Linked DNA regions of Homo sapiens: region 2 is linked to region 1. The links come from fine-mapping of genetic effects on gene expression. Tissue or cell type: whole blood. Region 1 holds a variant in brackets; the other region holds the start of a gene. All regions are shown on one strand. Distances are between the middles of the regions.

The links. PIP is the estimated chance that this variant, and not a neighbour inherited with it, causes the effect.
Region 2: KANSL1-AS1 starts here. The variant in region 1 is fine-mapped to the expression of KANSL1-AS1 in whole blood (INTERVAL, PIP above 0.99).

What each region holds. Positions count from the first base shown.
Region 1 is chr17:46,250,623-46,258,800 of GRCh38, reverse strand. It overlaps a transcript of LRRC37A not described here. Among named protein-coding and RNA genes, the nearest start is that of LRRC37A, 40 kb to the left of the region's middle. The variant AATAC/C (reference allele first, on the strand shown) is at 4,402.
Region 2 is chr17:46,190,293-46,198,470 of GRCh38, reverse strand. KANSL1-AS1 (KANSL1 antisense RNA 1) reads right to left here and starts at 4,898. Exons shown (of 2, transcript NR_034172.1): 1 at 4,733-4,898; 2 at 1,748-2,103. KANSL1 (KAT8 regulatory NSL complex subunit 1) reads left to right here and starts at 5,042. Exons shown (of 15, transcript NM_015443.4): 1 at 5,042-5,648.

The sequences.
Region 1 (8,178 bases):
AGAGCTTGCAGTGAGCCAAGATTGCACAACTGCACTCCAGCCTGGGTGACCAAGTGAGACTCTATCTCAAAAAAAAAAAAAAAAAAAAAAAAAGAATAATAGTCTCCAATCCTGTCCAGGTTGCTGCAAATGCCATTAATTCATTCCTTTTTATGACTGAGTAGTATTCCACTGTATATCTATACCACAGTTTCTTTAGCCACTCATTGATTGATGGGCATTTGGACTGGTTCCACATTTTTACAATTGTGAATAGTGCTACTATAAACATGTGTGTGCAAGAATCTTTTTCGGCCAGGCGTGGTGGCTCACGCCTGTAATCCCAGCACTTTGGGAGGCCAAGGCAGGTGGATCACAAGGTCAAGAGATCAAGACCATCCTGGCCAACATGGTAAAACCCCATCTCTATTAAAAATACAGAAAGTAGCTGGGCATAGTGGCACACGCCTGTAATCCCAGCTACTTGGGAGGCTGAGGCAGGAGAATCACTTGAACCCAGGAGGCAGAGGTTGCAGTGAGCTGGGATCGTGCCGCTGCACTCCAGCCTGGCGACAGAGCGAGACTCCATCTCAAAAAAAAAAGAATCTCTTTCATATAATGACTTAGAAAGACTGAACTCTTACCTGGGCTGTGTGTGTTCTCTCTCTTTTTTAGTCATTCACTCTAGCTATGTGGGGAGGACATTCAAGCAGTCTATGGAGAAGTCCAGGTAGTAAGCCAATGAAGTCTTCAACCAATATTCAGTAAGGAACTACAGCCTGCCAACAACCAATGAGTGACCTTGAATGCATATTTTCTCCCAATTGAGTCTTCAGATAAGAGTGCAGCCCCAGGCCACTGCTTGACTGAAACATCCCAAGAGAACTGAGCAGAACCACCCAGCTAAGTCCCTCCCAGATTCCTGGCCCACAGAAAGTGTGATATAATAAATGTTTTTTGTTTTAAGCTGCTAAATGTTGGGGATCATTTTTTTTTTTTTTGACATGGGCCTCACTCTGTCGCCTAGGCTGGAGTGCAGTGGTATGATCATGGCTCATTGCAGCCTCAACCTCCAAGGCTCAAGGGATCCTCCCATCTCAGCCTCCCAAGTAGCTGGGATCACAGGTGTGTACCACCACACCTGACTTTGGTGTTTTTTTTTTTTTTTTAAGTAGAAACAAAGTCTTGCTTTGTTGTCCAGGCTGGTCTGGAACTCCTGGGTTCAAGTAATCCTCCCTCTTCAGGCTCCCAAAGTGCTGGTATTACAGGCATGAGCCACTATGCCTGGCCCAATTGTTAAATCTTTTTTAAATTTTATTATTTTTTTCTTTTTTGTTCAAAGTGTTACTTTTTTTTTTTTTTTTTTTTTGAGACAGAGTCTAACTCTGTTGCCTGGGCTAGAGTGCAGTGGCACGATCTTGGCTCACTGCAACCTCCGCCTCCCAGGTTTAGTTCAAGCAATTCTCCTGCCTCAGCCTCCCGAGTAACTGGGATTACAATCACGTGCCACCACACCCAGCTAATTTTTTGTATTTTTAGTAGAGACAGGGTTTTGCCATGTTGGCCAGTCTGGTCTTGAACTCCTGACCTCAGGTGATCCACCCTCCTCGGCCTCCCAAAGTGCTGGGATTACAGGTGTGAGCCACCATGCCCAGCCTAGTGTTAAATCTTTATAACAACATAAGTACGAGGTTGAGACTTATTACCCTGTTTTACAGATGAGTAACTGAGGCACAGAAAGGTTGAGTTACTTGGCCAAGGTTATACAGCTAATAATTACAGGATGCCAAAACCGCTAGCTTCTGCCAGTGCTCTTAATATAAGGTTGAAAGAAAAAAGAAGAGAAAAGAGCCAATTAACATAAAACATAGCTGTTAGAAGCCTCCTTCTACAAATGGCGATGAAGTCTAAGTTGATAATCATAGCCGCCTTCTTCACCACTTCTTCCAATCCCCTTTCGAAGGGTTCTGTGCCTCATAGGGACACTCAATACTTTATTCCATAAGACCTGACTTCTTGGTGGTCTTGTTTTTATTGGGTTGCTCTACTTTTCCATTAACCAGGTCTTAGGGTCAAGAGCCTGCTAAGATGTGTCCCCAGTGAATTTTTGGCTTTCAGACATAGCCTCCTTCCTCCATTAAGTAACAGAGCCATTTTCCTCTTGCTAATCATATGTAAAGAGGCTAGTTCGGTGATGGTTTTAGTCAGCTCAGTATTACATACTGGGTGGCTTAAACAATAGACATTGATTACTCACAGTTCTGGAGGCTGGGAAGTCCCATATCAGGGTGATAGCACAATTGGGTGCTGGCAAGGGCTCTTTTCCTAGCTTGCAGATGGCTGCCTTCTTGCCATATCTTCACTTGGTGGACAAAGAGAAGAAAGGCTCTCTGGTCTCTTCTTTTTTTTTTCTTTTTGTTTTGAGACAGAGACTCTCCAGATGCTCTCTCTGTCCAGGTTGGAGGCTGGAGTGCAATGACATGATCTGGGCTCACTGCAACCTCCACCTCCTGGGTTCAAGCGATTCTCCCACCTCAGCCTCCCAAGTAGCTGGGATTACAGACTTGCGCCACCACGCCCAGCTAATTTTTGTATTTTTAGTAGAGATGGCTTTTCACCATATTGCCCAGGCTGGTCTCAAACGCCTGATCTCAAGTGATCCACCCACCTTGGCCTCCCAAAGTGCTGCGATTTCAGGGGTGAGCCACTAGCCAGACCACCTGGTCTTTTCTTTTAAGACACTCATCCCATCATGGGGCACTGTCAGCCTAATTACGTCCCAAAGGCCCCACCTTCTAATACCATCACATGGAGGTGAGGGCTTCAACATAAGAATTTGGGGGCCGAGGCCGGGTGTGGTGGCTCACCCCTGTAATCCCAGCACTTTGGGAGGCTGAGGCAGGCAGATCACGAGGTCAGGAGATCGAGACCATCCTGGCTAACACGGTGAAACCCCGTGTCCACTAAAAATACAAAAAATTAGCCAGGCGTGGTGGCGGGCGCCTGTAGTCCCAGCTATTCGGGAGGCTGAGGCAGGAGAATGGCGTGAACCCAGGAAGCAGAGCTCGCAGTGAGCCAAGATCATGCCACTGCACTCCAGCCTGGGTGACAGAGCGAGACTCCGTCTCAAAAAAAAAAAACAAAAAACAATTTGGGGGCCGGGCGCGGTGGCTCATGCTGGTAATCCCAGCACTTTGGGAGGCTGAAGTCAGCAGATTACCTGAGGTCGGGAGTTTGAGACCAGCCTGACCAACATGGAGAAACCCCATCTCTACTAAAAATACAAAATTAGCCGGGTGTGGTGGCGTATGCCTGTAATCCCAGCTAACTCGGTAGGCTGAGGCAGGAGAATCACTTGAACCTGAAAGGTGGAGGTTGCAGTGAGCAGAGATCGCGCCACTGCACTCTAGCCTGGGCAACAAGAGCAAAACTCCATCTCAAAAAAAAAAAAAAAAAAAGAATTTGGGGAGGATGCAAACACTTAGCCCATAATAGTAGCCGCCTTCCATCCTTATTGATTCAGCAGCATGAGGAACTTTAAATGGCCAGCTTCGGCTGGGCAAGGTGGCTCATGCTTGTAATCCAAGCACATTGAGAGGCCGAGGAAGGAAGATCACTTGAGCCCAGGAGTTCCAGAGCACTCTTGGGCAGCATACTTGCCCATAGTGTAAAAATTAGCTGGGCAGGGCTGGGCTTGATGGCTCACACCTATAATCCCAGCACTTTGGGAGGCCGAGGTGGGTGGATCACCTGAAGTCGGGAGTTTGAGACCAGCCTGGCCAACATGGTGAAACCCCACCTCTACTAAAAATACAAAAATTAGCTGGGCATAGTGGTGTGCGCCTATAATCCCAGCTACTTGGGAGGCTAAGGCAGGAGAATCGCTTGAACCCAGGAGGCAGAGGTTGCAGTGAGCTGAGATCACACCACTGCACTCCAGCCTGGGTGACAGAGACTCTGTCAGAAAACAAAACAAAACAAAAAAAACAGGCGCGGTGGCTTATGTCTGCAATCCCAGTGCTTTGGGAGGCTGAGGCAGGCGGATCACAAGGTCAGGAGTTGAGACCAGCCTGGCCAACATGGTGAAACCCCGCCTCTACTAAAAAAAAAAAAATTGCCAGGCGCGGTGGCACATGCCTGTAATCCCAGCTACTCCGGAGGCTGAGACAGGAGAATCGCTTCAACCCAGGAGGTGGAGGTTGCAGTGAGCCAAGACCGCGCCACTGCACTCTAGCCTGGGCAACAAAATGAGACTGCGTCTCAAAAAAAAAAAAAATTAGCTGGGCAAGGTGGCATGCGACTGTAGTACCAGCTACTCAGGAGGCTAAGGTAGGAGGATCTCTTGAGCCTGGGAGCCTGGGAAACAAGAGTGAGATTCTGTCTCTAAATAAATAAATAAATAGATAGATAAATAAATAAATA[AATAC/C]AATAAATGGCCAGCCTCGGCTTCCAGTTGAATAAAACCATAATAGTATTTCCTGATCTACACATTTCTTCCTTTGGCACTAGGACCTCTGGACCCACTGAGTCCCGGGTCCCTGGCAAGGAAAGCAAAAATTCTTCATGTGAATTATTAGGGGCCACAGTGGGAGGAGCCACTCCCATCTCCTCTCCTCGGTTCCTGGACTCATTCTAGCATGGTCTAAGTCTAGGAACGGCAGTGCTAGCAGAAGTCCCGCAGGCAAGGGAGGCAAATCCACACCCAGAACACGGGTCTGTCGTTGTGAGGATGAGGCACTGTCCTTACACCCCAGTCTGGTCCTACAAAAAAGGATGGCCTCTCAGGGTGCGACCTTCACCTTGGAGCAGCGCCCTCTGCTGGCCGCCTCTAAGATCTGTGGCCACTTGCATCCCCCTTCTAATCTTCCCCTACCTCTGTTGGTTCAAATCCTCTCTCAGTTTATTAATCCTTGGAAAGAATTACATAGCGGTTATTCACAGCTTGTAAATTACAATAGAAAGGTTCCTTTCAAATGGTAGAGTTGCACTAAAGAGGAAATTGGGTTTATAAGAAAATGCACCTCTCCCTCTCCCTCTCCCCCTCCCCTCCCCCTCCCTCTCCCTCTCCCCACGGTCTCCCTCTCCCTCTCTTTCCACGGTCTCCCTCTGATGCTGGACTGTACTGCCGCCATCTCGGCTCACTGCAACCTCCCTGCCTGATTCTCCTGCCTCAGCCTACCAAGTGCCTGCGATTGCAGGCACGCGCCGCCACGCCTGACTGGTTTTCGTATTTTTTTGGTGGAGACGGGGTTTCGCTGCGTTGGCCGGGCTGGTCTCCAGCTCCTAACCGCGAGTGATCCGCCAGCCTCGGCCTCCCGAGGTGCCGGGATTGCAGACGGAGTCTCGTTCACTCAGTGCTCAGTGGTGCCCAGGCTGGAGTGCAGTGGCGTGATCTCGGCTGGCTACAACCTCCACCTCCCAGCCGCCTGCCTTGGCCTCCCAAAGTGCCGAGATTGCAGCCTCTGCCCGGCCGCCACCCCGTCTGGGAAGTGAGGAGCGTCTCTGCCTGGCTGCCCAGTCTGGAAAGGGAGGAGCGTCTCTGCCCGGCCGCCATCCCATCTAGGAAGTGAGGAGCGTCTCTGCCCGGCCGCCCATCGTCTGAGATGTGGGGAGCGCCTCTGCCCCGCCGCCCCGTCTGGGATGTGAGGAGCGCCTCTGCCCGGCCGTGACCCCATCTGGGAGGTGAGGAGCGTCTCTGCCCGGCCGCCCCATCTGAGAAGTGAGGAGACCCTCCGCCCGGCAACCGCCCTGTCTGAGAAGTGAGGAGCCCCTCCGCCCGGCAACCGCCCTGTCTGAGAAGTGAGGAGCCCCTCCGCCCGGCAGTCGCCCCGTCTGGGAATTGAGGAGCGTCTCCGCCCGGCAGCCACCCCGTCCGGGAGGGAGGTGGGGGGGTCAGCCCCCCGCCCGGCCAGCCGCCCCGTCCGGGAGGTGTACCCAACAGCTCATTGAGAACGGGCCATGATGACAATGGCGGTTTTGTGGAGTAGAAAGGGGGGAAAGGTGGGGAAAGGACTGAGAAGTCGGATGGTTGCCGTGTCTGTGTAGAGGCGGGTAGACATGGGAGACTTTTCATTTTGTTCTATACTAAGAAAAATTCTTCTGCCTTGGGATCCTGTTGATCTGTGACCTTACCCCCAACCCTGTGCTCTCTGAAACATGTGCTGTGTCCACTCAGGGTTAAATGGATTAAGGGCGGTGCAAGATGTGCTTTGTTAAACAGATGCTTGAAGGCAGCATGCTCCTTAAGAGTCATCACCACTCCCTAATCTCAAGTACCCAGGGACACAAAGACTGCGGAAGGCGCAGGGTCCTCTGCCTAGGAAAACCAGAGACCTTTGTTCACTTGTTTATCTGCCGACCTTCCCTCCACTATTGTCCTATGACCCTGCCAAATCCCCCTCTGCGAGAAACACCCAAGAATGATCAATTAAAAAAAAAAAAAAAGAAAGAAAATGGAGGCATGGTGGCACGCGCCTGTATTTCCAGCTACTTGGGAGGCTGAGGTGGGAGAATCACTTAAGCCCAGGAAGTGGAGGTTGCAGTGAACTGAGATTATGCCACTGCACTCCAACGTGGGTGACAGCGAGATCCTGTCTGAAAAAAAAAATCAATGAATCAAAGAATGGTGACCCCAGTAAATACCTGATACTTTATTTATTTGGCTCAATGAAAATAAAAAAGAGAATTTTATGCAAAAATTTCAGACAACTGAATTTTGCCAAATGATTCCATTTACTAAGGATTCCATCTTTGGTTCTAATGTAGTATATATTCCCTGTGGAGGAAATGGATTTCTCCAAATAACTGGATCCATAGTCATGTAATGCTAGTGGGGACAATCACCCCAGCTTAGATACCATCAAATGAATTCCAACATATGTGGGCTCTCCCATTATTTGTCTTCTCACCTGCCAGCCTGCCTCTCTTGGCAATGCTAGGATTCCAGAATCAGGCCCTAAGCTCAGCAAGGGCCTCCATGAGGGCCATATTACACCCTAAGATTCCCAGATGTCTATTTGGAACCACCTCTGACTTACTCCCTTATTTTGCCCCTGAAACTGCATGGGGACAAAGAAGAAATCATAAAAACAGGGATAATGGATATGGCCCTAAGTATTTTAATGTGGCCTATCAATAGTGTCGTCATACCATCCCTGTTTACCAAGCCTTTATGGCAATTTCTTCACCTTGATACTGTTGACATTTTCGGCTGGTCATCATTTTTTATGGGGGAATTGTCCTGTGTGTTTTAAGACGTTAAGCAGGACAGGTGAGGTGGCTCACACCTGTAATCCCAGCACTTTGGGAGGCTGAGGTGGGCTGATCACCTAAGGTTGGGAGTTTGAGACCAGCCTGACCAACATGGAGAAACCCCATCTCTACTAAAAATACAAAATTAGCCAGGCGTGATGGTGCATGCCCATAATCCCAGCTACTCGGGAGGCTGAGGCAGGAGAATCGCTTGAACCCGGGAGACAGAGGTTGCAGTGAGGCGAGATCGTGCCATTTCACTCCAGCCTGGGCAACAAGAGCAAAACTGTGTCTCAAAAAAAAAAAAAAAAAGATGTTAAGCAGCGTCCTTGACCTCTGCCCAGATATTGCCAAATGTCACTTGGGGAGCAAAATTGGCCCAGTTGAGAACCACGGGACTAAGGTAAGCAGAATTATCAGGATAAAACAGACAATTCACCTCTATCATACCAGAGTTTTTTGTTTGTTTTTTGAGACAGGGTCTTGCTCTGTCACCCAGGCAGGAGTGTGGTAGTGTGATCATAGCTCACTGCAGCCTCAAACTCCTGGGCTCTCAGGAGGCTGAGAAGCAGTGAGTCACAATTGTGCCACTACAATCCAGCCTTGGCAACAGAGGGAGAACCTTTCTCAAACAAACAAGAGGAAGAAGAGGAAGAGGAAGGAGAGGAAGAGGAAGAGGAAGAGAAGGAAGAGGAAGAGGAGAAAGGGGAAGGGAAGAGAAGGACAAGGAGAAGGAGAAGAAGAAGACTCTGGGGCTCAAGCCATCCTCCTGCCTGAGCCTCCCAAAGTACTGGGATTACAGGTGTGAGTCACTGAGCGTATTAGTCAGGGTTCTCTAGAGGGACAGAATTAATGGAATATATACAGGAGTTTATTAAGTATTAACTCACAGGATCACAAGGTCCCACAATAGGCCGTCTGCAGGCTGAGGAGCAAGGAGAGCCAGTC
Region 2 (8,178 bases), 60 kb after region 1:
TGTGAGTCACCACATCCAGGCTTTTTTTTTTTTTTTTTTTTTTTTTTTAATTAAAGTAGGTCCAAGTCCTAAGTAGATAGGTGTTTGAAGTTTGAATTAGGAAAGAGGTGCTGATTTTTGCTTCACTCAGATTTTAACCTTTAAAGTTTAGAACTGTGGAAAATAGCTTCATTCACTAATAATAATAGTTAAACTTAAGAGGTAGGTGGTATTACTATCTCCATTTTACAGAGCAGAATACGTACTTTGCCCAAAGTAACACAAAGAATAAGTGAGGGAGGCAGGATTAGAATCGGGCTACCTAGGTCCTGTGTGCTTAAGTACTACACTCTACCTTTTTCATTTATTCAGTCAGTTCTTATGATGTGTCTCTTTTGTGCCAGGCCCTGGGCTAGGTCCTAGGTAAGTAACCAAAAAAATGGGCCCCTGTGCTTTTGAAACTAAATGGCCTAGGCTTTAGAACTTGTCCTGAGTTAATATATAATAATTGCTTTTTCTTAAGTGCAAAAAAAGTTATTCATTGTCCTTTTGAGATTAGTTTGGACATACGAGGTACTGAATTTGTGAGATTATTCTGTTTAGGAATTTCTGGCTTGTTTAGAAGGTCTGTGGCAGGGAAGGTAGAGAGTGCCTTTTTGGAATACGTTTATTATCTATAGATGAGTTACAGATCTTAAATTAGAACAACCACAGTTCCTGCCTGCAAGGGCTTTCAGGCTGGCTTGAGGTGGCAAGACTGGTATATGAAAACAAACTCAGAGGAATTACAGACAGCATTTAACCAAGGGTAATGTAGTGCCAACTCTGTACATTATTGGTTCTTTTTTTGAGACACAGTCTCCTTCTGTCGCGTAGGCTGGAGTGCAGTGGTGTGATCTTGGCTCACTGCAACCTCTGCCTTCCGGGCTCAAGTGATTCTCATGCCTCAGCCTCCCGAGTAGCTGGAACTACAGGCGTGCACCACCATGCTTGGCTACTTTTTGTATTTTTAGTAGAGGCGGGGTTTCACCATGTTGGCCAGGCTGGTCTCGAATTCCTGGCCTCAGGTGATCTGCCTGCCTTGGCCTTCCAGAGTGCTGGGATTACAGGCATGAGCCACCACGCCCAGCCTACATTATTGTCAAGTGAAGTGAGTAGACGATAACAGTGGTGTGGTGGAATATAAGAGGATAACATGAGTTGTAGGTGGATTGGAGAGAGGAATTAACAAGGAATGGTGGTAATGAGGGATGGTCCTCTTTTTCTAGGTAGAGAGAACACAGACAAAGATGGATGGATACAGAGCTGTGTGTAAGAGGGAACACCTTTTCCTTTTTTCTTTCTTTCCTTCCTCCCTTCCTTTCTTTTTCTTTTTTTGGAGACGGGGTGTTGCTCTGTTGCCCAGGCTGGTTTGCAGTGGCGTGATCATGGTTCACTGCAGCCTTGACCTCCTGGGCTCAAGTGATCCTCCTGCCTGAGCCTCTGAGTAGCTTGGACTACAGGTGTATGCCACCACCCCCGGCTAAATTTTTTTATTATTTATTTTTTGAAGAGATGAAGTTTTGCTGTTTTCCCTGGGCTGTTCTCAAACTCCTGGGCTCAAGCAATACTCTCACATTGGCCTCTCAAAGTGCTGGGATTATAGGTGTGAGCCACCATGCCTGGCCATGGAATGTCTTTTCTGAGGAAGAAATAATAAGATTAGTTATATAAAATACTGTAATCATAAAGTAAGATACAAATACTAAAAAACATTAGAACTCAATCATTGTTTTTTGACTTCATTTATTATATAAGGAACCTAACTCAAATTGGCTTAAGCAATTAATAAATGTTTATTGTTACATTGTTGTAATGTGGCTGGAAATCCAGAAGTCATACAAATTGTCAGGATTGGTTGATACAGTGGCTTAATGCTATCACCAAGGACCAACTCTCTATTCCCTTTGATGTTGGTGGCATCTTCAGGCTTGCTGCAAAGGTGACTGTAGCAGTTTGAGGTGTCACTGTCTGAGGAAGAGGGACTGTTTTTTCCTCCATCATTTTTAGGATTGAAGAACCTTTTCTCACAGTTCTCTTTTGGAGGCTGTCCAGGGGGCTTCTACTCACATCTCATGGCCATTCCTAACCAATCATTGGCAAAGAGAATGGGTTAAAACTAATCAGAATAGAGTGGATATTGGAGAGTCAACATGACTATTCCAAGAGTGATTTGAAATATGTTGGTGTTTTTATTTTTTTATCACTTTTCATTTTGAGATGGTCTCGCTCTGTTGCCCAGGTTGGACTACAATGGCATGATCATGACTCACTGCAGCCTTGACCTCCCAGGCTCAAGCAATCCCCTCAGCTTCTGGAGTAGCTGGGACTGTAAGCACATGCTACCACACTTGGCTAATTTAAAATTTTGTTTGTAGAGATAGGGTCTCACTCTGTTGCCCAGGCTGGTCTCTAACTCCGGAGCTCAAGTGATCCTCCCACCTCACCCTCCCAAAGTGCTGGGATTACAGGAGTGAGCTGCTGCACCAGGCCTTTTTCTTTAAATCTTTTTTTGTTTGTTTGTTTTATTTTGTATGTAGGTGTTTTCAATCAGCCTTTTGGACATCCACTATTTTTTGGGGGGAAATTTAAGAAAATTTGTTTCTCTTCATAAGATTTTTGTGTGGTGGCTCATGCCTGTAATGCCAGCACTCGAGTCCAGGAGTTCGAGACCAGCCTGGGCAACATAGGGAGACTCTGTATCTACCAAAACAAAAAGGAGTGAAAAAAATAACAGCTGGGCATGGTGGCATATGCCTGTAGTGCCAGCTACTCAAGAGGCTGAGGTAGGATCGCCTGAGCCTGGGAGGCTGCAGTGAGTTTGATTGCACCACTGCACTCTAGCCTGGGCAACCGAGCAGGACCCTGTCAAAAAAATAAAAGTACAAGTGGATGCCTAATAAGAAAGATGTCTGATTTTAGATAAGAATATACAACAGGTTGACTGATTTAAGTGCCATAAACCCTGTGAACTCTTGACTCTTGCACTAAGCAATGAGAGAAAGGGGAAACTGGAATTTATAGTTCCCCCAAATACATGGTTTTAAAAATGAGCATTTTCCAGTTTTCTCCTAATCCATTAGAAAAATATATTTCATATAATCTTGCTTATTTGGTTGCCTAATTAAATCTGACAGTTCAGTCTTAAAAATTTGGAGCAGCAGTAAGATTATTTTGTTATGGTGTGTCTGAATTTAATATTTAAGTATACGCTGCAAAGGGCTTTGCCTTATTTGGTATTTTTCATTCTGCTAATTTAGATTTCAGGAGCCTCAGATTGGGGCTCTAGTTCGCCATCTGTTGGTCCAATACCCTTCTACTGTATTTTGTGGAATTACTATTTATGTGTGTATGTGTGTACAATAAAAAAGTCAAAGTTTTTCCCCAGGGTTGTAAATTAAAAATCCAAGACTAAAGACCTCTTTTGGATGTGTATACAAATATTAGTTTATTCTTTGTGTAATTTGACCCTATGACTCCAAACTGCCTGCCTTTGGTATTTGAGAACTATGACTATGCTTGAGAGTGTGATTTTAGGAGTACAAATGGAAATTCGCAGAAACCTAGGTGCAGATGTTGCAGGGGCAGGTGAGTTAGTGTAACTTTGTGGGAAGACTAAAACCGTTCTGTAACGACTGTGAGGGTGTTTTTTGATAAGCAGAAGTGACGTATAATGCCGGATATTGGTTCTGGTAAGCCACAAAAAAGTGTGAAGCATTTTGCGTCTTCCTTTTTGGTAGTAGAGCATACATACCCTTCTTATCTGCCGAATTTGATGATTTAATGATTTGAACGATTTTTTCTTCAGTCATTTAAGCCAGTTTTGATGAATCCTAGATTAGTCTTTTAAATCTCAAGATACTCCACTCATCTTTTGGCAACTTTAAAGGGTGGTAGAATTACACTTTGTGTGACACTTTGTATTACATTATGTTTATGAATTCTTTAAGTCTAGGAAAGGTTCCATTATTTTAAAGGTCCTATTTTGGGGACAATATAAAGTTCTGTACTGATAAACTGGTCATGAGAAATGATAAGGTGCCACCACTTTAAACCAACTCTGGTAACGAGGTGGGAAGTTGGCTTTTTGTTGTGAGACTTGTGTTTCTTTATGGAGTTCTTTGTTAAACTTTTAGCATGGCAGTGAACTTCCTTTTGGTGGCGGCAGGAAGCATAAATACTCATTGTGTAATGCCATTTGCCTGTTTTGGCGGATCTGCCAAGCCATGACACCCAAAACAAGACGCGTGTTTCTTCACGAAAACTACAGTTCCCAGCGGGCCCGGCGCCGGCGGGGCCATCACTTCCCCTCTGGCTCCCGGCTGTCCCTTCCCGGGCTGGCCCGGCGCGGGCCCTGGCTGGGGCCTGCGCAGTGACTACGTGCACCCTCCCCACCCCGCCCAACTCTGGTGGCTGCGGAGCGCGGTGCTGGGGCTAGTGCCCAGCCGTGCTGCAGTATACGGAGGCTGGCTGCTAGGGACAAAGGGCGGGCGGCGGAAGCCGCTTCACTGGTCAGGGAGCTTTCTGCAGGGTTAGCCTTGGAATAGTGTGGTGCCGACGGCCTTACCCTCTTTACTACACAGTGCAAACAGTTCCTCGCTCACGTCCTCTCGCTCCGCGGCGCCGGCCCGCCCTGCCCCTCAACTGGCGAGCCGCACCGCCGGCCCCAGCACGGAGGGCATGTGACGGCGTCAGTGCCTCAGGTTAGACTCACCTCGGCCGCAGCGAGGGCTGGCTTCCCCCTGCCGCAGTGCTGCGTGCCGTCGCCGCACGTCCGGGGCAGCTGGGGCCGGGCGCCGCGGCCTCCGCAGATGGAGGTACAAAAACATCGGCCACGGCGAGGAGCCATGACTGAGGCGGCGGCGGCCGCGCCTCCTGGCGGCCCGCGGGGGCGGCGCGGCGGGCGCCCCCTGGCGGCGCGCCGGGGTGGAGCGGCCCTTCGCCGCCGCAGCCGCAGCCGGCGGAGGCGCTGCTGTCCCTCCTCCCCGTGTCCCCGGCGCTCGCCCGCTTGCTCGCTCGCTCCATTCTCCCTCCGCTTCAGATTAAAGGGGGGGAGGGAAAAGGAGCTCGGCCGCCATTTTCCCAGTGCCGCCGCCACCGCCGCCACCGCTCGCCGAGCCGGCGGGAGAACCGAGCACCGTAGCGAAGCCGACTCGTCTCGCCGCGGCGGCGCGGGGGGCGGCTGAAGCGCGCTCCCCGGCTGGAAAGAGGCGGCCGGGGGTGGCGGCCTGGGTGCGGGTTCGGGCTGCAGACGGCGGTGCTTGTTTGTGCGGGGCGGGGGGGCGGTTTCACTCTCTGCCCCCGCCCGCCCGCCCTCCCGGCCGGGCTGCGGTCTCCAGCCGTGCTCGGGCCCCGTCGGTGCGGAGCAAGGCCGGGAAAGGGCCCGAAAGAGAAGAAAAAGCAGCCGCTCCCCGCCGCCGCCTTCCCCTCCCCCTCTGCCTCGCCCCCCCGCCCGGAAAGTCAGGGCGGCTCCGGGCGTCGGGGGGAGGAGAGCGGCGGGCCCGGGCCGGAGCCGCCGTCGCGCGCCCCCGCCCGCCGCTGGCCCTCGGCGCCCAGGCCGGGGGGCTGTTTGCAAACTGCGCCCATTTTGTGGGGCTGAATCCGCCCGGGCTACGCTCCTCCATCACGTGGTAGGTGCTGCTGCTGCTCCTCTCCTCCTCCTCCTGCTGCCCTTTCTCCTTCTCCTCGCTCTCCCTGTGGCTCCCATTTCTCTCTCTCTTTGTTAGTTGTAACTAGAAAGGCAGGGCAGGGTAGAAAAATCCCCCGGAACTTTAAATGGCCTCTCCGGGCTTCCCTGCTGCGGGTCCGGGCTGGGAGTCGCCCCAAGGGCGGGGGTGTGCGGGGGCCCTTCCCCAGGAGCTGCCGCCTCGTTCGCCAGCTTTTCCTTTGGCGTTCTATTTAAAAAGGCGGCCTGAAGAACATGATTTATTCCCGTAAAAGAACCCCCCAAACAAACTCTGGCTCTCGCCTTGAACTTCTCTTGACTGCAAAAGGCCTTTCTCTGCTCGAAACACACATCTTGGCGCGTTGCACGGTTTGTATCACAACTCTGATTGTTTCATTTATTATTTTTGTTGCCTGTAAATTCAGGTCACTTACGTTTTCAGATGTAGTCTCCCTCAGGCGGACTTTTTTTTTTTTTAAACTAAAGAGGAAGAGGGATTTATTTGCTTTTAAGTGAGTTGGAATCTTAACTGCCTTTTTGGGGGCCTGTTTTCCGGCTGACGGTCTTTTGATTCTTAGCAAATAGTTTGTTTTCCATACGATAAACAGCGCTACTCCCGTGTCTTACTTAAAAATCCTCGTTTTCCAATGTTGGAATCCCAATGTGGATTTATAGAGAAACGTGCTACTTAACTATTGCTTACTGATTGCTTTAGGGGAGAAGGGGTGACATGATGGCGCCACTTTAAATTGCTCTCTTTCCTTTTCCTCGGTCCCCCCCACCCCCCTTTATCCTGGAGGTCACTGGAGCATTTTCTGTGACTTATTAATAAAACTGTACTTGAGGGTGTTAGAAGCACAACTCGTAGGGGCTGGAGTTTAGTGCTCCTAGGGTCGGCAGACCGACTGCCGCGGTCCCCAAAGTTCCGAGAAATCTCTCTTCCTCCAGCCTCGCCTCCCTCCCCTCCATTCACAATCCTGGTGTTGCCATCTCCTTTGTCACGTGGCTAGCAATCATTGTGTTTTTTTGTTTGTTTTGGGGTGTGTGTTTATATTTTTAAATTGCAGCTCAGAGGAACCTTTCCTTTTCGCTTTGGAGAGATCAAAACGTTTTACTTGTTTTAGTTTTAGAGTCGGAGAACATTTTAAAATAAACGATAAAATTACATAATCTTTGCCTTGCATAATCATGATATAGTTATAGATTGCTACTGAACTTCATTTTGAAAGTCCTTTCAAGTATGGAAACTAGTACGTTAGAATATGTTTTCCATTTGTCAGGATGGTCTGTAATTTCTGTTTTCTCTGCTTTTTGGGTCAGTTAAAGGACCACTATTTACAAAGGCTTAAGTGGGTGTGTTTTCCCTTTCCCCTTTCCTATAGGCTCTACTTGGTTCCTTTTCTAGCATGCTGTCTGACCAATTTAGAAAATTTCAATTGTCTACAGGCGTTGTCAGTTAAAACTATTTTTTTAACCTATCAACAGTGAATACTTTTGAGTAGTAATTGTTTTGTGCCTAATGCTAAGTGTATTTATTAGCATTTCGGTGTTGATCTAGAAAATTTTTACTTTTAATCCTGTAGTTTTAGAAGTATGTTATTCCTTTATCTGTTTCTTTATATCAGTTTTTCCCATAATTGGGTAAACTCCTATTTTATAAAATACGAAGTACATTTCTGGTTTTTTCTACATAGGTTACTAGACATTTTTTCAATTTGAAAAAACATTTTGAATTAAGAAACTTTTTTTTTAAAGTAAATACGAAATGTGGTTCTTGAGTATGCATTGATCCTGATTTACCATGTACATTGTCAATGGTTTGGACCATTTTCTTTGCTAACAGTTACATCATGTCATGTGATATGTGCAGTGTGATGTGTAGTTCTAAAAATAAGGCAAGGTAAAAATGCTCATCCCTTGGGAATTTAAAAAATGTATTATAAATGTGGAATAACTACCTTCAGTCATGAAATTCTGAATTGGATTTCCACTAGGTTTATGCAACAAAGTGTGCCGTTCCTTCGACCTTTAGCATATTTGGTGTATTTGTTAGTACCTCATAATTTGAGGTGATTGACTTTTTATTTTTTGAACTACTTGGAGGGAAACATTAAATGTTACAAAGGTTCTTAATGTCTATATTATGGTGAAGATGGTTGTCACTGATGGCCACCTCATTTGAGTATATACCAGTGTCTGTGATTGTGACCAGTTAAAAGAATGATCAGTTAAGAATTATTAGAGCCTTTATGGTAGGGTGGGATTTTCGGTCTTTCCATCTATATGAGTCCACTGAAGTGAAGTATTTTAGAAGTTTTCTTGCATCTTTTCTGAAAGCCACGTTCAGAACATTCGTATTTGACTTTGGTGCTTTACCAACGTGAGATGTTAAATTTTTGTCTGATTTTCTTTCTTCCTGCCTACACATGTTATTTCTCTGGTTAAACCTGCAGAGCACTCTTTGTTACGTGAGTGTTTCCTGTTGAGGAAAATTC